Homo sapiens: one gene and its partners. The protein of the gene in region 2 purifies or fractionates together with the protein of the main gene of each other region. This does not show direct contact. Each region holds a gene or a part of one and is shown on either strand. Other genes may lie near its edges.

The links.
Region 1: the proteins of PPA1 (region 2) and SUCLG2 purify together in Homo sapiens (affinity purification with mass spectrometry; 2 studies listed by BioGRID, with this or other methods). This does not show direct contact.
Region 3: the proteins of PPA1 (region 2) and ANXA5 purify together in Homo sapiens (affinity purification with mass spectrometry; 2 studies listed by BioGRID, with this or other methods). This does not show direct contact.

The regions. Positions count from the first base shown.
Region 1 is NC_000003.12:67,374,104-67,378,932, forward strand, and holds the end of SUCLG2 (succinate--CoA ligase [GDP-forming] subunit beta, mitochondrial isoform 2 precursor), read right to left. Parts: intron 2,403-4,829; coding exon of another isoform or gene 2,359-2,402; exon of another isoform or gene 1,757-2,358; coding exon 1,641-1,756; 3' UTR 616-1,640; downstream 1-615. UniProt on the Homo sapiens protein: GTP-specific succinyl-CoA synthetase functions in the citric acid cycle (TCA), coupling the hydrolysis of succinyl-CoA to the synthesis of GTP and thus represents the only step of substrate-level phosphorylation in the TCA.
Region 2 is NC_000010.11:70,202,430-70,209,864, forward strand, and holds the end of PPA1 (inorganic pyrophosphatase), read right to left. Parts: intron 7,257-7,435; coding exon 7,129-7,256; intron 6,862-7,128; coding exon 6,776-6,861; intron 3,905-6,775; coding exon 3,835-3,904; intron 2,487-3,834; coding exon 2,444-2,486; intron 758-2,443; coding exon 726-757; 3' UTR 406-725; downstream 1-405.
Region 3 is NC_000004.12:121,679,648-121,687,082, forward strand, and holds part of ANXA5 (annexin A5), read right to left. Parts: intron 6,726-7,435; coding exon 6,641-6,725; intron 5,125-6,640; coding exon 5,030-5,124; intron 3,831-5,029; coding exon 3,717-3,830; intron 2,115-3,716; coding exon 2,024-2,114; intron 1,162-2,023; coding exon of another isoform or gene 1,109-1,161; exon of another isoform or gene 1-1,108. UniProt on the Homo sapiens protein: This protein is an anticoagulant protein that acts as an indirect inhibitor of the thromboplastin-specific complex, which is involved in the blood coagulation cascade.

The DNA of each region.
Region 1 (4,829 bases), on a different chromosome or scaffold from region 2:
ATAATATAGGTTATTTTTTTTACTGCACCAACTAGTGATTAAGCTATCAAAAACCAAAACACAACTAAGAAGACATTGTTAATATTCTTCATTCATTGCATGGGCATTAAGAAAGGATGTAAGACTGATCTATCCAATAGTTTATTTCTCCATGGCAAACATGGCTCTAAACAATAATGACTTTCATACTTTTGTCCACACATAAAATTTATGAGAACAAAGTAAGCTGGTAAAAAAAACAAACAAAATAGTTTGGTCTACTACATATTTATACACTGAAAGGAAAATTAATGGTGGCAATTGAGCCTCACTTAATGGAATGAGTTATACTGGAGTATCTCCCTTTGCGTTACGCAGACTGACATCACAGTTCAACCTGTCAGACATCTGAGATACATTCCTGGGGTTCTGGTTTGTGTATAACTTTTATGGATTCAATAATCTCCTAACACAGAAATGGGTATCTGATAAAGTTGAGTGGAACTGGAATAATCCTGGAATGACCCAAATTATCAAATTTTAGAGGCATACCTAAGACACTAAGACTAGTGTCTTTGTAAAAAAAAAAAATGTTTGAGGAATAAAATTGAGTAAAATGAGAGATACACACAGATCTTACAGCTTACAAAACATAATTTTATTTAAATTTGTATAGATAAAAATCTACCAAAATTTAAACAAAAATTTTATCCAAATCCTTTCCCACAACAAAATTGGACATCATGGAAAAAAAAAACACATTCAAATAAGGTTCCCATCTTTCTACCATAAACTGGTAGATTCTGGGAGGATGAGGAGTAAGAGAGAAACGAGGAGAGAAGATAGTGATACTAAACACAATTTGATCTTCAGTGTTGTCTCATCTTGAAATATCTTAATAACAGAGATTTCCATAAGAATCAGGATTCATTTTTGACACAAAAATGGAAGCTTCCACTCCCAAAATCACAAATAAGGCTTCTGGTTTTCTTTTTAGTGTGAGGTAAACAGTATATTCAATATTAAGGCAAATGGTAAAAACACATGGATGGTATATTAATGCAGATATTCCATTATTAAATATATTTTGGAATACTCACGGATTTTTCAAACATATGTTAGAATTAGAAACCTGTAAAATCTGCAGTAGTGTGTAATAGCTATTTGCTTGAATGTCTTAGCAGTGCCTTTTTAGTAGCTAATATGTTCAGTGTAATCTTATGCCTTTTTAGTAATTAATATATTAAATATAATCTTGTCTGAGTTTTTAAATGGTCTGTTTTTCTTTTTCATTATGTAGGATTAGATGCCCACCAAAATTCTTGTAAATGAAGCAGGACTTGATTTCAAATTCTGTCTATACACACAATATTTGGCCACATAGACCACTCCCCAAAGTCTGCAAAACACTGCCTACTGGGCAGGCTTACAGTGACAGAAAAGTATGAGAACACAAGATATTATTTTTATAAAGACCAAAATCAGATTTAGGCTGTCTAGATATCTTATTCCAGAAAACACAGATTTAAGATTTTTCAGTGATTCTTGCCTTCCCCCTCCCCTTTTCTTCCCCAATGAGATAACCATTTCTTTCACAATGATGAACCATCCCTTTTTACGGAAAAATGGCTTTCTTTCTCCATTGGATCAGGACAAAGACATCACTTCTTGGCCACACTGGCCACAGCCTTCTTGGCTGCATCCTCCAGGTCAATGGCTGAAGTAATGGGGAGTCCGCTGTTGTTGAGTATCTTCTGGGCCTCTTGGACGTTGGTTCCTAGAAGGGGGACAGGGAACAATCACTGAATGAAACTAGAGGTGGCGCCTTATGAAGTTTGCACAAGGACACACAAGACTCACCTGTCTACAGCTTTTCACTAGGAAATGAATTAAATATAGGTTCTCATCAAGGTCACTGACAGAAAAGATTATGTGATGAAATTTATCTCAAGCTGTGGTCCAGCTAGAAAAGAAGATGAAAGCAAGGGCTTGCAAGAGGGAAATGAACATATTTTACTGATGGAAGCTGAGTTGTCTGCTGATAATCACAGCCATGTGGATTTAATGCGGTTTTGGCCCACACCAGAAGTCACTTGTCTTAAAGCCCTCTCAGACGTCATCAGGGGTTTGGGCTGTGACCTGATTTGAGAAAGGAAGTTCCGAGAATCTGCCCAGCTATGTCCACAAATCCACTGCTTTGGAGACTCTGGCGCATCCAGCATGTCCATTTCTGCCTTCTCCTCACTCTATAAAATGAAATGGGCTGAGCCCTTCAAAACGGGCAAAGCAGCCTCTGATGGCAATCTCTTGACTGTTCCTGGTGGATCTGGAGTATCTTCTGGCCAAGTCACTTCATTCAAAGGTGTGCTTGGGGACTATTTAACATGAGAACTGCTTTTCTGCCATTTTAGAGTGAACAACTCCTGTAGGAGAAATGTAATAGAATTTAAGTGTCTAATGAAATATCTCATCCTACATCATTTCCTGTGCTTTTATCTAGTTGGCAAGACAGAGCCTATTTATAAACAAAGACCTTGAAATATAGGCCTTGGAGAACTTGCCTTACCACAAAGAGTGCAGATAAAAAGAGGCACTGGGTCAGCACATTTCATATAAAGAGGCAAATGCTGGATTAAATAGAAATGGGTGGATTGAAAAGATGATGCAGCACTGATTCCCCTGGGACCCTGGGTCTACCCAAGCAGCAGTGAAGATGGCCGCTTGGCACTGTGTCTTCACCTTAAGGCTCACCTACTCCTGTTTTTACAGAGGAAGCTGGTGAAAGTCCTCTCTGGAAGGTGAAAGCATAAAATGTGGGAAGCTGCTACCTAAAATCTCCATGCTGGCTCTGCCATGTACTTGTTATGTAGTTTTGGGTAAATCGTTTAACTTCTTTGAGCCTTAACTTTTGTTTCCATACAGAGCACTATCATCCTCGTAATCTTCCCAAGAACTAATATCATTAAGTGCTTATGTATGCCAGGCACAGTGCTAAGTAACTTATACACAGCATATGAAATCTTTACAAAAACTATGAGTAGTCCTATTGTTCCTATTTTACAGATAAGGCAACTGAGGCACAGAGAAGTTAAATAACTTTTCCATGGTCACAGAGGCGGTAAGTGTCAGAGATGGGACTTGAACTGTTCTCTGTAATTATAAACGCTGCATGTTCTAAAGATATGCTAGTCTGCTTACCTACTTGAAAAATGAGGACAGTATAGCTGATGGTATAGATTGTGATGAGAAGCAAATGAAATGAGTGTAAAAGCATTTTTGTAAATGGTGCAGTATCTGTGGCAGGCCTGGCTGGCTTTGCACCACAGACTCCTGCTCCTCTTCTGCAGTAGAGTGCTATTGCTGGAAAGCAGCTGCCCAGCCAGAAACTACATTTCCCAGGCCCCCCTGCATCTCGAAGGGGACATGTGACTGAGTTCAGGCCAAAGGAATGTCACATGGCCATGACAATCTCCAAAGGGACTCTTCACACTCGGTTTTCCTTGTCTGCTTTCTGGAGTGTTCCTAGCTGGGGCAGCCCTGGAAGTCACCTTTTTGGTTCTGGTTGTGTTTTGTCTTGCTTTTTGTTTTTGAGATAGGCTCTCGCTGTGTCACCCAAGATGGAGTGCAGTGGTGTGATCTCAGCTCACTGCAGCCTCAGCCTCCGGTGCCCAAGTGATCCTTCTACCTCAGCCTCCCAAGTAGCTGAGACTAAAGGCACACATCACCACGCCCAGCTATTTTTTGTATTTTTTGTAGAGATGGGGTTTTTCCACATTGCCCAGGCTGGTCCTGAACTCCTAAACTCAAGGACTCCATCTGCCGTGGCCTCCCAAAATGCTGGGATTACAGGCATGAGCCCTTGCACCCAGCCAAATCACTTCTTGAAGATGGCAATGACTCCTTCAGCCTGGATACTTTAATAACTCTCTGGAGCCAAGCATCTTACCCACTCACCCTCTTAGACCTTATGGGAATGAGAAAGACCCTTCTATAATGTTAAGACTCTGAAATTTCTGCATTTTTCTGTTGTTACAGGAGCTAGCATTATTTTGACTAACATATGACTTTGTAAATGCTGTGGAAGGCAGCTTCTAAAATGGTTTTCAAAGATCAATCACTCTTGCCTCCTGGTAGTCACATCTTTGTAGAATCCGTCCCCCTTGAGTATGATCTGGACCCACAGCCTTACTTCTAATAGATAAGAACATGGCAAAAGTGATGGAGTGTCACTTCTGAGACTAGGTTACAAAAGCCTGTGGCTTCAGTCTTGCTCCCTTTAACTCTTTTTTCACTCTGATGAAGCAAACTACCCTGCTATGAGCTGCCCTCTGGAGAGACTCACCTGGGCAAGGAACTGAGGGCAAACTCTGGCCAACGGCTGATGAGGAACTGAGGCTCTGGGTCTAATAGCCAAGGAGGAAGTGCATCTGGCCAAGAACCATATAAGGGATCTTGGAAGCAAATTCTTCCCTAGTCAAGCCTTGAGATCACTACAGCTCGGCTGACACTGTGATTGCAGCCTTGTGAGAGACCCTGAGTGAGAGGATCCACCTAAGCCACACCCAGATTCCTGACCACAGAAACTGTGAGATAATAACTGTTCTTTTTGTTAAGCTGCTACATTTTGGGGTAATTTGTTAAGTGCTGATAGGTAAGTAACACAGATGTAAAAATGTATTATTTCATTAACACAACCTGCGTGCACTTTGATTCATTTGACTGTGGCAGGTGTTAGATAGCAGGCTAAGGAATTTAGAAACTAATCAAAGCATGGCTTTCATGGAGTAATGACAGAGTGTGAAACAAAAGCCCTGATGGACACAGGAGCAAACCAGTCTTTGGACCAGAAG
Region 2 (7,435 bases):
GAGTGGTTGGTAAACTGACTTAAGATTACAGAGCTAGTAAGAAGATGGGCTGGCATTCAAACTGGTTTGTTCAGCTGATAACTTAGAATATAATATAAATGACTTAAGCGTCCAATTAGTTGACTGAAGAAGTAAAAAAATAACTATTAATATATAACTTCAAAGGGTGAGCAACATTGTGCTTTCTGCTAATATGATATAAATTTAAAAACTTTTGCTTTAGAATGGTATGCTAGGACTTATGTACTAGAGCATAGTATCAAGAGTACTATAAATATAAGCGATTTCTTCGTCTAATAATTATAAATTTGAATTATAAGACTATCAACAGAAAACAAACACCAAAAAATACCCATACCTACTTAATGTTGGCTTCAGATTAAAATAAAAATATCCTAAGCCAAGTTTCAGCAAAATAATTTTATTTCCTAACATATGGTAACATATACATCCAATATGTGCTCCCCTTGCACATCTATTCACAAGTGACTTCCAAATGACAACTGCTTTGATATTTAAGCATGTGCTAAAAGTTATCTTAGTTGAGATATGAAAAATGCTTTAGATGGATAACATTCTGAGTATATTGGATTAGTCACAGCAGAATTTACTTTAGTTAGATGAGTTCTACAAATTTAAAGCTTTGAAAAGCTACTACTTTTACTTCTAATACATCCAGATGAACACGATGTAGCAATATCAGCTTGTATTCCAGAGAAATCTCATTAGTTTTTCTGGTGATGGAACCACTTATCCACTGTATTCAGAGAAAAGAAAAACAAATTAGAATTCCTGTTGAGAATCAAAAATACACCTAACATATAACAAAGACTAATATACTTGCTTTAATGAATCCTACTATGAATTACCTGAAAATTAACAGGCATACATACAAAATTTCTCTACAGCAAATGCAGGTGTTTTCTTTTGGGCTTCCTTACACTTCATGCTAATTGCATAGTGTGATTTTCAAACTTTTTTTTTTAATTTCGAGACAGGGTCTCACTCTCTTGCCCAGATTGCAGTGCAGTGGCAGCAATCATGGCTCACTGCAACCTCCATCTTCCAGGTTCAAGCAATTCTCGTGCCTCAGTCTCCCCAGCAGCTGGTATTACAGACGTGTGCCACCACATCTAGCAAATTTTTGTATTTTTTTTTTGTAGAGACATGGTTTCTCCATGTTGGCCAGGCTGGTCTCGAACTCCTGGGCTCAAGTGATCCGCCCGCCTCAGCCTCCCAAAGTGCTGGGATGACAGGTGTGAGCCACCACACCCAGCCTTCAAACTTGTTTTTTTAAGTGGCAGAATCATTTTCTTACCAGAAAAATCTTACAGAGAATTCTGACATCTAAGGAGGAGAGAACTGTTTTCTGGGTGAAGCAGCCTGTGGCCAGGTGGGAATGTGGAGATCAGCCCACTCAGGGTCCCCTCCAGTGTCCAGCGGGCACCTCCATGGAACTCAGAGGGGCACAATGGGTCATGGTTTGGAAACCACTGTGATACAGTGTGGCACTAAAGGTGGTATGTAGCAGCTCATCTTCCTTCCCACGTACACTACAGAATTCTAAAAATGCTTCTCTTCTCACCCTTCTTCCCTCTCTTCCTGTGTATGTTAAAAATATGTACGTGGCTGCGTGCAGTGGCTCACGCCTGTAATCCTAGCACTTTGGGAGGACAAGGTAGGTGGATCGCCAGCCTGGGTGACATGGCGAAACCCGGCCTGATTAGTGTTCAAGACCAGCCTGGTTCGAGACCTGGTTTGAGACCAGCTTGGGCAACATGGTGAAACTCTATCTCTACAAATTATAAAAAAATTAGACAGGTATGGTGGCACATGTCTGCAGTCCCAGCTATTTGGGAGGCTGAGATGGGAGAATCACTTTAACTTGGGGGGGTTACGGGTACAATGAGCTGTGATTGTGCCCCTGCACTCCAGCCTGGGTGACAGAGTGACAGCCTGGGTGACTCTGTGTCAAAAAACAAAAAACAAGCCAGGTACAGAAAGACAAATACCACATGATCTCATTTATATGTGCAATATAAAAAAGGTAAATTCATAGAGGTAGAGAGTAGAATGGTGGTTGCCAGGAGCTGAAGGATGGGGAAAGGGCAGGCGATGGTCAAAGGGTACCAAGTTTTAGTTAGACAAAAGGAATAAGCTTTAGTGATCTATTGCACAGGATGGTGACTGTAACATCTATTTCAAAATTGCTAAGAGTAGATTTCAAATGTTTTTACCACACAACAAATAATGATTAAGTATGTGAGGTAATGATTTCGTAATTAGCCAGATTTAATCATTCCACATTGTAAACATATATCAAAACATCACACTGTACCCATAAATATATTTAATTATCATTTGTCAACTAAAAATAAAAGTAACATAATTTTTCCATAACTGTGTAATGTTTAATGAAATTTTACTGGAATAGAAATCTTACCGTCTGTTGGTACTGTGCAGGCAGATTCACAGGGTGGTGGTAACTAAAATATAAAATATTAAAATCTATTAGTCTAATCTCATTTTTTAAAAAGCTAAAAAGGTATACTGACAAAAATTTAAGAGAATCTGAAGACTATCCCAAATTTTAGGATCTAAACGTAATTTATAATATATAGGAACAATAGAAGGTTTGCTCTACTGCTGAGATGCTAACAAATTCAAGCCTCTTGGACAGTGCAGTGGCTCATGCCCATAATCCCAACACTTCGGGAGGCTGAAGTGGGTGGATCACAAGGTCAGGAGTTCAAGACCAGCCTGGCCAAGATGGTGAAACCCCGTCTCTACTAAAAATAAAAGCTGGGCATGGTGGCGGGCACCTGTAATCCCAGCTGCTCGGGAGGCTGAGGCAGAGAACCGCTTGAACCTGGGAGGCGGAGGTTGCAGTAAGCTGAGATTGCGCCACTGCACTCCAGTCTGGGCAACAGAGCGAGACTTGTCTCAAAAAAAAAAAAAAAAATTCAAGCCTCTTGACTTTTTATGACATGCAGAATAATAAGAATGTTTTTTGAAATAATAAAAACTGATTTATGCATATATAACAATTTTATATATACACACATATTTATAAAATATGGGCAGTGTTCTCACTGAAAAATTATAATAGTTAACCACTGGCTTTTCCCTTATAATTTTTCTTATTTATCTCAACTTTGTCGGGATTCATACATAAATAAAGATAAAACTAAATGTACTGGTTTCATCATTAAATTGTCCTTTTTTCCTTGTTCTACCCCATTTACAAGGCAGTAAAAAAGTCAGACCTCATTTTCTTTTGTTTTCCTTATTTAATATTATAAATGAAAATAATTTAAGATGATCTCGTTCAATTTTTTGGTTAATCCAAACCAAATAATTAAAAATAGTACAAAAACAAAATTATTGCTTTGACGGGTGCTTTTACTACCTCACATGAAAGCCTTTCTTAGATTATGAATCATTCCTGCAATGGTACCTAAAACTTGATACCTTCCTCAGTCCTTGCTAGAACCAAGTCAAGTAAATTCCCATTGATTCTTTTGCGGAAATGGCTTATGATGGGTCATAGGCACACAGGTTACTTGGTACATTCTGGAACCATTCTGATTTTTACAAATCTTACTACCATGCTATCTGTCCAACTTATGATTGATTAGAATCACTCCCTCAGCTTCTCCCTCAGTCAAATGGCCACTTGCATGTGTTCATGGTTTCTAATTTCAAGACTCCACACAGTAACATGCATACAAAAGGCACTCAAGTATTTGTCGAAACAAGTACTTCCTCTCCCCATTTAGCATCATAGTTTTTAGCAACCAGGCTTGTTTTTTTTTTAAGGAAACTTTTACATACAGCATCCACAATGGCTCTGGCAGCATCAGGATCACACTTGAAGGGGCTCTCAGACAAAGTTGTATTCATGCTATTAAATAAAACAAAAGTAGTCATAAGACAAAATAACAAAAATTATCTCTTAAGAGTTAAAAAATGAGTTGAAAGTGGTTGACCAGGTGATATTCAAGTTTAGTTTAGTCGAAAGCTTTTTCACCTACATTTAACATTCTAATTATGTATTTTGGCAAGGCATAGCTATTCTTGTGATCAATTTTATTCAAATATCTTAACAAGTTCGGATTTAAGAAACTGAGATTGGGCTAGGTGTGGTGGCTCATGCCTGTAATTCCAGCACTTTGGGAGGCTGAGGCAGGCGGATCATGAGGTCAAGAGATCGAGACCATCCTGGCCAACACGGTGAAACCCCATCTCTACTAAAAATACAAAAATTAGCCGGGCATGGTGGCGCATGCCTGTAGTCCCAGCTACTCGGGAGGCTGAGGCAGGAGAATCGCTTGAATCTGGAAGGCGGAGATTTCAGTCAGCTGAGATCGCGCCACTGCACTCCAGCCTGGTGACAGAGCAAGACTGCGTTGCAATAAGGAGGAGAGGAGAGGAGAGGAGGGGAGGGGAGGGGAGGGGAGGGGAGGGGAGGAGAGGACGAAAGAAACTGAGATTGAATGCTTTGTAATTCTCACTGAAATAGCTAAGAAATGTGAATTGAGAAACATATCTTTCTTAATTGGAAAAAATAATGAAACAAAAAAAAACCCAGTTCCTGTAGTGTTGGTGAGACATCTGAAACAGACACTTCTGGCAGGAGTCCTGGTTCAATCTTTCTGAAAAATATTTCTGTAAAATGTATCCAAAACCTTTTAAAAAGCTCATAGGTCTTGATAGAGAAATTCCACCTCTAAGAACCCAATCCAATACTGAAACGGTAATTTACAAAGGTGTTTACCATATACTATTTCACTATTAATAGTGGTGAAAAATTGGAAGTAACCAAAATGTCCAATAATAAGAAATGATTAAAAATAGTTTATCCTTCTTTGCAGGGATTTAAAAATAAAAAGGTTTATCCATAAAACATATTATACAGAGATGGAATATTATATTATTAAAATATGATATTTCTAGACTAGGCATGGTGGCTCGCATCTGTAGTCTAAGCACTTTTGGAGGCTGAGGTGTGAGAGGATCACTTAAAGCCAGGGGGTCAAGATCAGCCTGGACAACACAGCAAGACACTGTCTCTACAACAAATTTAAAAATCATCTGGGAGTGGTGATGCGTGCCTGTAGTACCCAGCTACTTGGCAGGCTGAGACAGAAGGATCACTTCTTTGAGGTTACAGTGAGCTATTATAGTAACACTGCACTTCAGCCTGGGCGAGAGACCCTGTCTCTAAAAAAAAAATTATATCTTTTATGACATGAGGAAATGCTTATTACATAGTGTTAAATTTTAAAAATCGTAAGACAAGTCGTGTATATAATACAATCCTAATATGTTTTTTGGGTTTTTTTAGCCCACTTTAGTCTAAAATATGGATCATGTTTTAAAAATACATTTTATTTTTGTTTATCCGTAGTTCAAGTTTTCCTATATATTAGTCATTATAGTACTAATATAATATGTGCCCAATTAGAAATATTCCATCAAGGCCGGGTGTGGTGGCTCACGCCTGTAATCCCACCACTTTGGGAGGCCGAGGCGGGCAGATCATGAGTCAGAGGTTCGAGACCAGCCTGGTTAACACGGCAAAACCCCGTCTCTACTAAAAATACAAAAATTAGCCGGGCGTGGTGGCATGCGCCTGTAATCCCAGCTACTCAGGAGGCTGAGGCAGGAGAATCTCTTGAATCCGGGAAGCGGAGGTTGCAATGAGCCGAGATCATGCCATTGCACTCCAGCCTGGGCAACAAGAGCAAGACTCTGTCTCAGAAAACAACAACAACAAAGAAATACACCATCAAAATGAAAAATGAATCATCTTTGCTGACCTGTTATTTAACATACATTAAGACCATTTTCATAGAAATCGTAAGATACGAAAAAATAGAGAAGTTAACTTAAAAGCCAAATCTTTTTCCTTTTTTTTTTCTTTTGAGACAGGGTCTTGCTCAGGTGCCCCAGTTGGAGTGCAGTGGGGCAATCACAGCTCACTGCAGCCTTGATCTCCAAGGCTCAAGTGATCTTCCCACCTCAGCCTTGCTACAGGCAAGCGCCACCATGCCTGGCTAATTTTTTTTTAATTTTTAGTAGAGATGAGGTCTCACTATGTTGCCCCCACCAGTCTCCAATTCCTGAGTTCAAGTGATCCTCCTGCCTCAGCCTCCTAAAGTGCTGGAATTACAGGAATGAGCCATATAGCACCCAGACAAATGCCAACTCTTAGGACTGTACATTTTTACACATATAACTCTTCTCCATTTTTCTTCTGTTTGTTGGAAGGACAATGTTTTCATTTTATAGGACATTATCCTGACACAGAATAGAAGATTTCTGGGAGAATTATTTTTGTACATTGGCTGTTTCTCGTACTCTTTTTTTTTTTTTTTTGAGACCGAGTCTCGCTCTGTCGCCCAGGCTGGAGTACAGTGGTACGATCACGGCTCACTGCAGCTTCAACCTCCCCAGGCTCAGGTGATCCTCCCAACTCAGCCTCCCAGGTAGCTAGGACTACAGGTATGTACCACCATGCCCAGCTAATTTTTGTACTTTTTGTAGAGACAGGGTTTTTCCATGTTGTCCAGGCTGGTCTTCAACTCCTGGGCTCAAGCAATCCATCCACCTTGGCTTCCCAAAGTGCTGGAATGACAGGTGTGAGCCACCGCACCCAGCCTTGTATCTCTTTTCTAAGTGAAAGTAACAGTACAGTGTCTTATGATTATTAAAACCTTTTCTGCAAGCTGGTCTGCTTTGTGTGTTAAACATGCAAAGTGTTTACACTTACCAACTGATTCCTTTTCCATTCGTTTTCTTAGTCACTAATGCTTTCCAATGGTCATGAGTGCTTTTAATAATATCAATGGCAAAGTCCTATAATTTGAAGAGGTTTGCATTACAATGATAAAAAGGTATTATTTTCCTATTATCAACATTTCCCCAAAGCCTGATACTTTGTCTCTTCTGAATCATTTCCTTATTCTAAAAATGGAAGAGAATATTAAAGTGAATAAATAAACACCAAGACTGTGTTATGTTTCCAGACTTCTGTTTTGTGAATCTTTAGATGGTAACAATATGGTTAAATTATGAGTCTCAATACAAATGAGCCTAAAGCTACAGTTCTGAATGACATATTACCTTATCTTTAAATTCTGCATTAAACGCAAACTCATTTTCTGGTTTTCCATCAGGAACCTTATACCTTCTAAACCAGTCCACAGTAGCTTCTAAGTAGCCAGGTTTCAGCCGTTTGACATCATTGATATCTAAGAAGAGAAGAAGCATAAGATGACAGTGAGAATGATTTTTTTAAAAAGAAAGAAGAGAATAAGCAGATTTCAAGATGCACAAATAATTATACACTCAACAAAAATTCCAAGTACTTATTTTGAAAGAGCTGTGGAATGACTTATCACGGAAGTTCAAGATAACATTGGAGCGAAGC
Region 3 (7,435 bases), on a different chromosome or scaffold from region 2:
GTCCAGTCTCCATGCCATTAAAGACAGGCAGTACCTCACCCAAAAATATCTTTTCTACCTACTCAAAATGCACCTAGTCTTTTTTTCCCAGCTTTATTGAGTTATGATGGACAAATAAAAATTGTATATATTTAAGGTATACACCATGATGTTTTCATATATGTGTACGTTGTGAAATGATTACCACAATCAAGTTAATCAGCATATCCATCACTTCATATAGTCTATATTTTTGTGTGTGGTGAGGACATTTAAAATATACTGTATTCACAAATTTCAAGCATATAATAGTTATACTTTCACTATAGTCACCACGCTGTTCATGAGATCCCCAGAACTTATTCATCCTGCCTAACTAAAATCGTGTATGCTTTGACCAATATTTCACCAGTCCCTTCTCCCATTCACCCCACCCCTACACCCTAGCAAACACTGTTTTACTATCTGTTTCTATGAGTTCAATTTTTTTAGATTCAACATAAGAAGTGAGATCATGCATAGCTTATGCCTTGTGCCTAGCTTATTTCACTTTGCATTATGTCCTCCACGTTTATCCATGATGTTGAAATGACAGGATTTCCCCTCTTTAAGACTGAACAGTACTCCTGTGTGTGTGTGTCTGTGTTTGTGTGTGTGTGTGTACGTATTCTTTATCTATTCATCTGTCAATGGACACTTTGTAAACCCACCTAGTCTTGAAACTCTGCTGCATGTGTGATTTGTACCATGAAGCCTCCCTAACATCCAAAGCTATGATGACCTCTCTCTTCTGAATGCATTATTGCATTTAACATCATTGGTATTTTACTTTAGTTTGAATTTCATTATCCTTTAAATATTGCAGTCATTCTGTCATGTCACCCACTGAGGAGACTGCACACAAACTGCTTGAGGACAGGAGCTGTGTTATGCACACCTTTTGTCACTCATGACAGCCTGTTAACACACTGCCAGACACATAGCCAGTGCTCAATTACACGGCTGAGTAGGACAGACCACACAGTTATTACCCCCTTTGAGCACACCATTTGTAATCCAGTAGCACAAAGGCTCTCATCAACGTCAACATCCCCAGAAAGAGATCTTTGAATAGTACATCAAATAAAGTTCAAAGTTGAGATACATGTATCACTTCTGCCTTAGCGGTTGGGAACTTACTGCCTATAAAAAGAGAAGCAGGAAAGAGAGATTCAGCCCTTTAGAAAGGTAATTATACAGTTGCTCTAAACAATTTTTTGCTGTTTTGACTTGCTGGGTTAACAAAGCCATTTCTAAGATTAACAAACTAATGGCAAGATACAGCCCCTAGCAAAAGACACTAGGCTTGGAGTCTGTTGACTGAGCTGAGAAACTGGATAGTCTGACCCTCCTCAGTCAGGCAGGAGAAAGAGTTGGCTACAAGAAATCTGGTAAGAAAAGGACTCTCTACCTCTACTTTTTACTTCATTTTCTTGATTCTATTCATGAGACATATTTTAGGCCGAAATGCAGATTTCTGTTCATATAAAAGACACACTAAAAAGAAAAATCAAAATGCAGAATATTTTATTCAAGCACTGCCATTAGCTAAGACAACATACATTTACTCAAATGTACTTTATCAACTCTGATGTGGGAAAGGGTTTAGGTTTCTCTTCCAAAGTTCCAAAAGTACTTTTTATATAACTCCTAAATTTTGCTAGCATAAAGCTAAATATTTTTAAAGGAGGAAAAACCATTTTTACCTTAATGTTAACATAAAGACAACCTGTATATCCCTACACTAATTGCAAATCCTATGCAAAAGTAAACTCCATCTTCAGCAGTAGCTTCTTATAAAATATGAAAATAGTAGAGGATAACAAGGCAGTCTTTTCCTTACTGAAGGAGAAAAATAGCTTGAATTGCAGGTCATTCATTCATTCATTCATTCATCCATCATTTACTGCGTGCCTCCCATACCTACAAAGGACTGCATTCAAATCACAGAAATGAAGGAAGTGATAGTGGAGGTGAAGTCAAAATATAACTCACAAACATTTACCTTCTTCATAAACTTGTTTGATGGCTCTCAGTTCTTCAGGTGTCCTTGAAGCAATAATTTCTGTCAGTACTTTTTCATTTGTTCCAGCTCCCTGTTTGGAGATTTTAATAGAGAAAACATGTCAATAAGATTAAAAAGAAAGTTATTAAAAGAAAGTTATAGATGTTACCCAAATTGCATAGTTATATAAATATTATCCAGTATAACATGGATTTCTTTGTATATGAGTTCTATTAGTTATAGAAATAACAAGTTTTAAATGATTTTCTCTCCAAAGACCATTTTATTCTTTTTGCCTAATGGAAAACAATGTTTATCATGTGTATGTGTGTATATATGTGTACGTATACATAACCAGTTACATAAATTTGTAACTTTTAATTTGATCAGTTAATTCTAGCTTAAAAGTAAAACATTTTCATGAAACATGAAGTAATTTTTTAAAAACCGAAAGAGTAAAAATGAAAACTTCACGTAAATGTACATGGAAGAGCACTGATACTTAATAAGCACCTCAAAAGATAAACCCCTGACCCCCAAGTTAAGTGCTGTGCAGTCACAGGAAAATTCTACATCAAAGGTAACAATAAATATAGCAATACTTAATTATTAGGAATTAGAACAGTATAAAGGAATTGGGACTTGCTTTCTGGATTTTTGAAAAATCATTTTAGTTGGCTTTCCTTTTTCTGCTTTTAAAAATCACATCTATATGATTAAACTAAGAGATGCAACGATATAGCTGGACTTAATTTTTTTTAAAAGATAGTATATTGAAGCCTTATTTTCTTTATATTTCTATTTTTTGCCAAAAATCAAGCACTGAAAAACCTAGAGTTCATTCTCTGGCAGAATTTCAACTACTGCTGACATTTCAGAAGTACTTAGCAAAAAAAGTGCTTTTCTCAATAACCTCAGATTTTTGTTTATTCCAAAAGAATCACCATAGGAAAATGAAGAGACTGAGCACAAACCAGCTCCTATCAGGATGACCCTTCTCCTCTCTCCACTCCATCAGTAAGAATCCCTGAGAAACATTATTTCCTTGTTAAATCTCAATGTGCCCATTCAAAATCTAACAGCTAACAACTGAACTACTTCCTGTCCCATGAGCCTAAACAAATGTGTCAATGCCTTCATATTTATACAACATTCCAAACACCAGTCAAGGGAATACATATTTAATTTTTGCTGCAACTGAAATTATAGCAAGTTTACCAGCTACTTCATTTTAGTGTTTAGAGGGGCAGGAAAGAAGGAAAGAGTATGAGAAAATATTTATCTTGAAAATTCTCTCTGAAGCTTTACCTTTTAACCTAAAATGATGAGCAATATTATGGTTCCCTAATCAGGCAATTTTCTACTGAAAAAGATAAAATAGCTCATCTGTAATATTTTTTAAACATCCTCAAAATCAGAAGACAGGCATGAAAATAAAATACAAAAAGCTATAAAAATATGAAAATTTTAAACAGCCCAGTATTATTGAGTTTAAATCTACAAAAAGATGAAATGACACACGTGTAATTTTCTCCCTCCTTTACTGCTTATTGCCTCCCAGTTTTGTCTGCCAAGCAACTCTCACTGAAATAATCAGATAAAATTTTTTAAATATAACAAATAAGAGGAAGTAATTACCAAAACAAAATAATACTATCTATGCAAGAATGTTCCTTTCACTCATCCTTTTTACCTTCAAGGCATGTTTCAGTTCATAAGCATCATAAAGCCGAGAGGGTTTCATCAGAGCCACAATTAATTTTTCAAATTTTCCAGTTAGTTCTGATTTCAGGTCATCCAGAAGATCCTAACCCACAGAAAATACAAATTTGTTAACCAGCAGAAATTGTAATAAGATTCTTCTTAAATATGAATGACAGTCCTTTGCTCTAATGAATTCTTTATGTTGCTGTCTCCAAGTAGAAGGCCCATGAGCTAAACAAAACCCTATAACCTTGAATAACATACTTTTAACCTGTGACCAAAATCTTAAACTAAAGCAAACCCACTTATACGTCAAGATATTTGTTTCTAAAAGATGTTTTTCTTAACTTGAAAAAAAAGAATACCTTTAAAAGTAGTCTAAAACTATTTTATAAAAATACTATTCTGAGAAACATATCTTCTTTGTAATTTCAAAAAATAATCATATAATGAAATTTACAAAGGACAACATTTAGTCTCTCATACCCAAACGTAATAATTTTTTCTTTTCTCTCAATATGTAATAACATTCAAACACATAATAGATTATAGTCATTGTTATGACTCCTGACCACTGGGAGATATCTGTTCCTATGGGGAAATTGTGTATGTAATTATGAAAAAATTATGTAATTGTGAAAAAAAAAACACAGTATTTCCTACCTATAAGTTTCAGCATACCACACAACTAAAAATGGTGTTTAGAATACTTTCTTTTTTGCTTTGCACTTGTTTCCTTAGTTAAGTGACATACGTTTTCAGAATAACAAGACTACATTTAAGTTTTCCATGCATGCACTAATTCATTTAAATTTAAATAATTCAAATAATTCATTTAAATAATTCAAATAAATTTTTTTGAATTATTAATCAAATAAAAGCATTTAAATCAACTAATTAAAAACCCATTAGTTAAAATCATGACAAAAGGAACCAAGACTGTGACTGTGTTAAAACAAAACATATTTTAATACAGGCTTACACCTAGAAAATGGATAGTAAGACATCCATGTGAATGCTGAGTGGGAAACACAGAGGAAAAGAAGAGAGACAGTTCTCACTACAGGATCTTTTGGCACCTCTACAGCATTAGGCAAGGAAAAACAATTATGTGAGGATAAGCTGGGTGAGCACTGTATCCTAAGAGCTGATAATTTAGAGGAGAGTGGAAAAGAAACAGAAGTAGGGAAGTCGGAATCACAAAATAAATGATGCTTACAAAAGAATATCAGTATATTCCAAACTAGTCTTATAACTGATAGCTGTTCTCCCATTCTCTCTTGGGATGAAGTGTGGTCTTACCCTGCCAAACAGAGTCTTAAAAGCTGCAGAGATTTCCTGGCGCTGAGCATTACTTCGGGATGTCAACAGAGTCAGGATGCTCTCCTCATCTGTGCCTGCAATTTATGGTTAACAATTACATTTTGGCTCCTACATGCATACTCTCCCAACGATCTTGGCAACTCGCTTCCCAGTCACCTTATTTCCTTGCCTCTCCCTATGCGAATATAAAATATATTTTATGGCCGGCGCAGTGGCTCACATCTGTAATCCTAGCTCTTTGGGAGGCCAAGATGGGAGGATTGCTTGAGGCCAGGAGTTCAAGACCTGCCTGGTCAACATAGTGAGACCCCCATCTCTTAGAAAAAAAAAAAATATGTATATATATATATATATACACACACACATATATATATACACACACACACACACAGACGCAAATACACACATATATATAAATGTTTTATTAAACAGTTTATTAAAAATTTACAATATATAAAATGTTACGTTTCCAATATATTCTACCCCCCATTCCCAACCTATTGTGAAGTAGATGGAAAAATACTTCTGCCTTTTAAAAAACTTAGGGCACCTAGTTTTTTAAAAACACACAAATAAGTATGAGCTAAGGCAAAATGTGACAAGTGCCTCAGGAGAGATCTAGGTGTTAAATGGGGCTCAAAGAAGGGTCTCCTAGCTGATAGGAGGTGGAAGGGAATCTTGGAGAATGATTCATGGAGAAGGTGACACCCACAAGTATTGAAGGATGGAAGGATTGTGAAAGGCAGTGACGAAAGGAAGGACAGCGTTTAGAATGAGAGAAAAGCTCAGCAGTGGGGAAATACAGGGCTTTCATAAACAGCAGATAAGCCAGGATGGTTGGGTCTGAGAACACATTAAACAGTAATGGGAGATGAGTCTGAAAAGGTGGGCTGGATACAATGGAAGGACTTACAGGGCCAGAAAGCACATGAACAGTAGTACAAAAGGAGCCTGAGCACAGGAGATCAGTGACACATGGAAATCCTTGAGATGAGAGGTTTTTAAATGACTAGAAAAGAGGCTGGGGAAAGAGAAGAGTCTAGCAGAATGAGAATGGGATATCTGATTGGGAACAGAGCTGCACAGCTGCCCACCTGCAGGGATGGCTGCCTTATCGACTCGGGCCTCTACCACACAGGTGAGGGTGACAAGCTCAAAAGCACAGAGGCTGAATTTAACTGCCTGTTCAGTTCTAGAGACTGAATATTAGGGATGGTTTATAGCAAGCTTGTCCAACCCATGGCCTGCAAGCCACATGTGGCCCAGGACAGCTCTGAATGCAGCCTAACACAAACTCATAAACTTTCTGAAAACATTATGAAATTTTTTTGCTTTTTTTTTTTTTTTAGCTCATCAGCTATCATTATTGTTAGTGTATTTTATGTGTGGCCCAAGATAATTCTTCCAATGTGGCCCAGAGAAGCCAAAAGACTGGACACTCTGGTTTATAGTATTATTTTGTTATCTTAACATATCTCTTCTCCTACAGATTTCAGATCAAAATATTCTAAAATTATTCTTACTGTAATTAATGACTTGTTTGGAAAAACAAATATCACATTTGCTTTAGAAAGAGGAAGCTAAATTTACCCAAGCCTTTCATAGCCTTCCGAAGAGTTTCTGCATCAGCCCGCTCATCAAATCCAGGGAAGTCAGTCACAGTGCCTCTGAGAACCTAATTCACGAAACACAGTGGTATTATTCATATCATGACTAATATGACAAAGTAAATAACACAAACAGGAAGCCGCTTGCTATATATCATATTCAGTCATTAAATAAATTTACCATTTGATAAGATTTGTGACCCCTTTTGAACTGGGAAGGGAACCATTTACAATGGGAATTGGCATGGCCGATTCAGCACAGAAGCTATCCTGATCACCTGTAATACCATCAGTGGGAAGGCTGGCTCCCTCTTCTCTGTGACGAAACCCCACCAACACCTCCTGGTTCACAGAGGGCACATCTTTGCAGGTTCCCTTCCCATTAAGTCTCACACCATTTTGATCTACAAGCATACTGAGCCCGCACTAAATCTTAATACCCTATCCTGAGTACTCAATTTTAAGCAGTGCTCTTGTTACGTGCCTTTTGATCTAAGTCCTGTTTCTGTATACATACTTAGGGACTTTACGATAACCCAGCAAAGCCTGAAATGATCGTTCACGTGCCAGAGGAATACAAATCTTTGAATTTAGAACTTTATAAAGGTGTATTGGAAGACATTCTTCATAAAGCTTCCTGTTACACATTACTTTATCATATATATACACTGCTTTTAATAACCAAAATATCTTCGTATTTCAAAAAAAATTAGTGATATCGGCTGGGCGCAGTGGCTCACGCCTGTAATCCCAACACTTTGGGAGGCTGAGGCAGGCG